Homo sapiens: one gene and its partner. The protein of the gene in region 1 interacts with the protein of each later gene in a biochemical or structural test. Each region holds a gene or a part of one and is shown in the gene's direction. Other genes may lie near its edges.

Region 1 (3,500 bases):
ACTACATGAAAATTTTAGGCCGGGTGCGATAGCTCACACCTGTAATCCCACACTTTGGGATGCCAAGGTAGGCAGATCACTTGAGCCAGGAGTTCAAGACCAGCCTGAACAACACAGTGAGACCTGGTCTGTACAAAAAATACAAAATTAGCCAGGCGTGGTGGTACGTGGCTGTCGTCCTGTAGTCCCAGTTACTCAGGAGGCTGAGGTGGGAGGATCGCTTGAGCCCAGGTGGGGCAGAGTTTGCAGTGAGCAAGATCATGCCACCGCACTGCAGCCTGGGCAACAGGGTGAGACCTTGTCTCAAAAAGAAAAAAAAAGCTTTTTTAAAGATAGATAGAAGAAAATGTTTGCAATATGTATAACACATACAGTATATAGAACCCTCATATCAATATATATAATTTCCAAAGAAAAAGTGGATAAAGAATATGAGCAATTCATTCACAAAAAATACAAATAGCCAAAAGACATGAAAAAGAAAAAAACATTGTTAATAAAATAATTTTTTAATCTATCCAACTGGCAAAATTAAAAGGGTTGATGATATTCAATTTTGGTAAAGGAAGACATAGGCACACTTGTATATTGGCACAAACTTATTGAGAGCAGTTTGACCAAATTGCGCATGTCCTTTGACTCAGAAATTCCACTTATGAAAATCTACCCCCACAGAAAGACTGTAAGATACTCATGAGGCTGAACATTTTTTGAAACAAAGTCTATCGATATTGGGGTAAGGAGATTTGTTTTGTACACACAGTGGAACACTAATTATAAAGTCGTCAAAAAGTATGAGGTAGACTGTATATATTCCTGTGGAAAAATATAAATGAGATGTTAAATGAAAGAAGCAAGTTGCCAAGCAATATTTGTAGTATGGTTACATATCTCCAAATAAATGTGTCATATGTATGCTTTTAGGTACACCAAGGTGGGACTGGAAGGGATCACAGTACACTGTTAATAGTTATCAAATTTGTTCGTCCTTCTTTAAAAAGAAAATTTCAACTTAATTATATCCCTTTCACATTAAAATGTCAAATAAAATTGGGGGAAAAGCCACCTACAGCCCCACCACCCATAGGCTAGAATTTTTACATATTTTTTGCCAGTCTATTTTTTTTCTTTTTTTTTTTTTTTTTTTGAGATGGGAGTCTCCCTCTGTTGCCCAGGCTGGAGTGCACTGGCATGATCTCAGCTCACTGCAACCTCTGCCTTCCAGGTTCAAGTGATTCTCCTGACTCAGCCTCCCAAGTAGCTGGGATTACAGGCACATGCTACCACGCCTGGCTAATTTTTGTATTTTTAGTAGAGACAGGATTTCACCATGTTGGCCAGGCTGGTCTCGAACTCCTGACCTCAGGTGATCCACCCGCCTCAGCCTCCCAAAGTGCTGGGATTACAGGCCATGAGCCACCACGCCCGGCCTCTTTTTTTCCAACCATAGGATTTGGTCTCTTGTTTTAGACAGTTATTATCTGATCCTCTCTCTCTCTCTCTTTTTTTTTTTTTTTTTTTTTTTTGAGATAGAGTCTCACCCTGTCACCCAGGCTGGAATGCAGAGGCGCGATCTCGGCTCACTGCAACCTCCGCCTCCCAGGTTCAAGCAGTTCTCTGCCTCAACCTCCCAAGTAGCTGGGATTACAGGCGTCAGCCACCACGCCTGGCTAATTTTATATATAATATAAAATATAATTATATATATATTTTGTTTGTTTGTTTTAGTAAAGACGGGTTTTCACCATCTTGGCCAGGCTGGTATTGAACTCCTGACCTTGTGATCCATTGTCCCCCCCCCCCAGCCTCCCAAAGTGCTGGGATTACAGGCGTGAGCCACCGTGCCTGGCCACATCTGATCCTCTCTACAGTTTTGTAGCCAGCTTTTTTCAAACACATGCCTCAGTTGTAGTGGCTGTTTAATATTATGTTTTTATAGTTGGAGGCCCTACTCCTTAAAACCTATGAATGTAAACCTCCCATGCAAGCCTGAGCACTCACCATGCTCACCACCTGAGCTCAGGTGGGGAACAAGCGAATGAGAGACAGGACCAGGTACTTTCTGGGTGGGACAAGTTGAGAGGGTCTGTGACAGGTCACAGCAGCACTAGGGAGAAGTGCCCCCCCCCACCAACCCTGATGTGATTTGGGTAGGGATGGTGGGCCTTCGCCAGCCACACCTGGGCCATTCTGTCTTCTTGCCTTCCTGGCCTTGCCTTCCCCTATTCCAGCTTTCTGCCAGGTAAACAGTACTTTCCAGCACTACCAAATAAAGATTTAAGGACTGCTAGCCCATTTCCTCTTACCCCGGGGAAAGAAAGTAGGTCCACAGGAAGGAAGGCTGCCTCCCTCCCCTTCTTCTATCCCCCAAGTGAAAGAGGTGGTTGGTGGCCACAGCAGGTGGGCCTGGCCAGGATGCCTGGGTTGGCAGTGAAGGAAGTAGCATGGCACTCAGCTAACCTTGGGCCAGATGCAGCAAGGTTGGGACTGAAGAAAAGGGGAGTTCAGGAACGTCGGTTCCTCTCCTGTTTTCTCTCAGCCCATGGGTGAGACCCTCTGTCACACTCCACTCCCTTTCCCCTGCCCTAGGTCAGCAGTCATTTGGAAAGAGCTTGCTCTGCCGCCGGCCATAGTTGTTGCCGGTTCACCTCCCCACCCCTCTCCCATCATCCCCTGGTAAGGCTGGCTGAGAGAAATTCCCCTGAAAACATTTATTTTACTCAGTTTATTGATAAGTGATAATAAAAGATAAGTATTACATATTTGTGTATTTATTAATGGCCCAGAGTAGAGCATTCAGATATTTTCCCAGTCTGATATATGGTTTCAGGTGAGAAAATAAGGGATTTATATAGTGACAATATTTTTAAGTGAAAAGTGGAATACATAGTCAAAGAATTTGGGCACTGCCTTGGTGGCTGGAGGCAGGTCAGAAAATGTCAGTTGGCATGGTAGAACTTCTAGGACGCTGAAATAGTTTGTGGAGACACAAGTAAGAATTTTTTTTTTTTTTTTTTTGAGACGGAGTCTTGCTCTGTCACCTAGGCTGGAGTGCAGTGGCACGATCTCGGCTTACTACAAGCTCCACCTCCCGGGTTCACATCATTCTCCTGCCTCAGCCTGCCGAGTAGCTGGGACTGCAGGCGCCCGCCACCAGGCCTGGCTAATTTTTTGTATTTTTTAGTAGAGATGGGATTTCACCATGTTAGCCAGGATGGTCTTGATCTCCTGACCTCGTGATCCGCCCGCCTCGGACTCCCAAAGTGCTGGGATTACAGGCGTGAGCCACCGCGCCTGGCCGAGAATATTTTAAACTACCACACTTACCATGCATGTGGTAAACTATCAGTCTGTATTTATCAGTGATGGTTATTTCCTAATACCCAGGAGGCATCCATGTGAGCCACCCTTCCATTGCTTTAAGACCAAGGGAGCGAGTGACCAGCAGGATTCAAGATGGCAGCTCTGCCGAGGAGTGGGAGTCCCAGCTAACTTCTGCT
Region 2 (3,500 bases), on another chromosome or scaffold:
ATTTATGCTCCCCTAAACATACTCCTGTTATCCTCTCTGGATCTTTTGTTCCTGAGGTAGAGACCATGCTGTTGGTCTTCAGATCACCTCTGCCACCTGACTGCCAACTCAGGTCTCAGCTCACTGCTAGATACCTCCACCCACAGCCTGCAGTCAGGGTTGGGTGACTGGCATCCCTTGTGTCCCAGTTGAGGCAGTGGGAACAGGAGGGGTGGAGCCGGCTGCTGTTGTGATGATCATGTGCTGCCTTCCTGCGTTGGAGTGTTCCACTTGCCCATTGTTGGAGGCGAGGAGACTGTGCCACTGAGGCACCTGTGCCAGCCCCCACCCGAAGAAGGACGCCATGTGCGTCTTCTAACCCTCCTCCTCTTCCCGCCTGTAGGTCCCGCAGGCTCCCGATGGCGAGATTACGGCGCCCTGGCCATCATCATGGCAGGCATTGCATTTGGCTTTCACCAGCTCTACAAGGTGAGTCACCCCCAGCGGCTGCAGGTGCTGTGCCCCTGCCACCCTGTGGCATTCAGCACCCTTTCACTGGTTCCCCTGCATGGAGGCACTGCCGTGCTCTGCCCTGGAGTGTGTTGGCAGTGAGAGGCTGTGGTAGAGGTCGGGGTTCACAGCTGGATCCAGGCAGACCCTGCCCTGCTGTGGGGCTTGGCAGGCTCTGCCCACCTTTTCTCCAGTGCTCAGCATATACCACCCAGATCTCCACTTGCAGGGGCGTCGTGAGGTCTGTCCCTTGCCAGCCCATGTCAGGCACTTACAGTAGTGCCCGCACGGGGAAGCCGTGCGAGCAGTTTTGAGACACAGAATAACATAATGGCGAAGAGCATGGACGCTGGGCCAGCTGCTTTGCTGAGCCCTGGCTCTGCCCCTCAGGAGCTTGGTGATCACAGGCTCTGGTCTGTAAAATGGGAATAACAGTCCCCACTTCACAAGGTTGTCGTGAAGTCCGGAAGAGTCAGTCTCCCTTGTAGAGGACTCAGAGCCATGCCCGGCACATGGAAGTGCTTTATACACCATTGTTCTGCCACAGCATTTAAGAGCGGCGGTGAGAACCTCAGTGTCATCAGATGTATGGGAGCTGTTCTTTTTGCTCTGTCTGTTGTGCTGCCATCTATAGAAATCTAGGATTTCCCAGGCTTCTCAAGTCAACTTTCAGGATCCCAGGTTCATTGCTTGCAACAGAACTGCAGGCATGACGTGAACATTGACTCCCTTGTGAAGGCCCAACTTGGACGTGAAGCAAATGAGTCTAGAGTCTAGAAAATGCAGGCCAGGGTAGGTGCCCAGTCCAGATCTTGGGACCCTGTAGAGAAGCCTCTTTTCTTTCGAGGCTGCCAGCTCCTCCACCCCTGATTGGTGATTTTTTTTTTTTTTTTTTTGAGATGGAGTCTCGCTCTGTCACCTAGGCCGGAGTGCAGTGGCATGATCTCGGCTCACTGCAAGCTCCGCCTCCTGAGTTCAAGCAATTCTCCTGTCTCAGCTTCCTGAGTAGCTGGGATTATAGGCGTGCTGGTGCATGCCTGGCTAATTTTTGTACTTTTAGTAGAGATGGGGTTTCACTGTTGGCCAGGCCGGTCTCGAACTCCTGACCTCAGGTGATCCGCCCACCTCGGCCTCCCAAAGTGCCAGGATTACAGGCTTGAGCCACCGTGCCCGGCTGGTGATTTTCTTTTTTAAACAACCTGAATGAGCACTCAGACTCGCCATGGTCACTCTTAGCACATGAAACATGGTCAGCCATGGTATTCCAGATTCTTCATTTTTGATGTAATACAAAAGCTAATGACAGTTGTAGCAGAATATAATTTTTTAAGTGTAGCATGTATTCCTGGAGCTGGACATTTCCATGTTAGAAATTGAGAAACAAGGGCTGGGCGCGGTGGCTCACGCCTGTAATCCCAGCACTTTGGGAGGCTGAGGCTGAGGATCCTGACTTGATCACGAGGTCAGTAGATCGAGACCATCCTGGCTAACACGGTGAAACCCCGACTCTACTAAAAATACAAAAAATTAGCCCAGCATGGCGGCGGGCACCTGCAGTCCCAGCTACTGGGGAGGCTGAGGCAGGAGAATGGGGTGAACCTGGGAGGCGGAGCTTGCAGTAAGCCAAGATCATGCCACTGCACTCTAGCCTGGGTGACAGAGCAAGACTCCTTCTCAAAAAAGAAAAAGAAAAAGAAAAAGAAATTGAGAAACAAAACATCCTGGGTTGGCCCAGGTGCCGTGGCTCACACCTCTAATCCCAGTACTTTGGGAGGCCAGGGCAGGCAGATTGCTTGAGCCCAGAAGTTTGATATTAGCCTGGCCAACATGGTGAAACTGTGTCTCTACCAAACAATAAAATAAAATAAAATAAAATAAAATAAAATAAAATAAATAAGCTAGGCATGGTGGTGTGAGCCTGTAGTCCCAGCTATACTCGGGAGGCTGAGGGTGGTGGGAGGATCACTTGGGCTCGGGAGGTGGAGGTTGCAGTGAACTGAGATCACACTACTGCACTCCAGCCTCGGCAACAGAAGGAGACCCTGTCTCAATTTAAAAAACAAAATAAGCCAGGCGCAGTGGCTCATGCCTGTAATCCCAGGACTTTGGGAGGCTGAGGTGGGCGGATCACTTGAGGTCAGGAGTTTGAGACCAGCCTGGCCAACAAGGTGAAACCCTGTCTCTACTGATAATACAAAAATTAGCTGGGTGTCATGGCGTGCACCTGTAATCCCAGCTACTTGGGAGGCTGAGGCAGGAGAATCACTTGAGCCTGGGAGGCATAGGTTGCAGTGAGCCTGCAGTGAGCCGAGATTGTGCCACTGCACTCCAGCGTGGGTGAAAGAGCGAGACTTTGTCTCAAATAAATACATAAATAAACAGAACAGAACAAAAACACCTCTTGGGACCCGGTTCTTCTCCCTCTGAACTGGTGCCCCCTTCAAATCACTGACTGTATACAAGCACCAAGAAGAATGTGACACGAACGCCAGAGTCCTCAGATGAATGCCCTGGCTGTAATGAGCAGTAGGCACTGTCACATGGCCACCCATGGAGGGCCTGTGGCCTGACGGGAGCGGGAGGGCAGCTCGGCAGCCCGCCTTAGCGTGGGCACTCACACGGAGCTGCCACTTGTAGTTTCTACGAAGCTCTGGGCTCTCCGCTCTGTTTTAAAAAGAAAAGAAACATTGCAATATCAGTCACAATGGTAACAAGAGAATTTCTAAAGCATCTGCTCAGTTTCTCGAAATTAAAAAAAAAAAAAAAAAGAAATGGTAAAAAGCCCTCGACTGGCTTTATAAGCACGTGAAGACTTTGGCTAGGGCAGCGTGTCTGCTCCTGCCCTTAGGACTTCTGATCTCAGAAATGGGGTGTTTAGTTGGTTACACACACATATATGAATTCTTTTTTTTTTTTTTTTTTTTTTGAGACACAGTCTAACTCTGTTACCCGGGCTGGAGTGCAGTGGCATGATCTCTGCTCACTGCAGCCTCTGCCTCCCGGGTTCAAGC

Evidence for each region. Proteins that work in one complex are often made in the same cells at the same time.
Region 2: the proteins of NFKBIL1 (region 1) and PEX14 interact in a test that uses a peptide from one of them, tested with the Homo sapiens proteins (one large-scale study listed by BioGRID and IntAct).

Annotation. Positions count from the first base shown.
Region 1 is NC_000006.12:31,554,108-31,557,607, forward strand, and holds part of NFKBIL1 (NF-kappa-B inhibitor-like protein 1), read left to right. Parts: intron 1-3,500. UniProt on the Homo sapiens protein: Involved in the regulation of innate immune response. Acts as negative regulator of Toll-like receptor and interferon-regulatory factor (IRF) signaling pathways.
Region 2 is NC_000001.11:10,617,950-10,621,449, forward strand, and holds part of PEX14 (peroxisomal membrane protein PEX14), read left to right. Parts: intron 1-382; coding exon 383-468; intron 469-3,500. UniProt on the Homo sapiens protein: Component of the PEX13-PEX14 docking complex, a translocon channel that specifically mediates the import of peroxisomal cargo proteins bound to PEX5 receptor.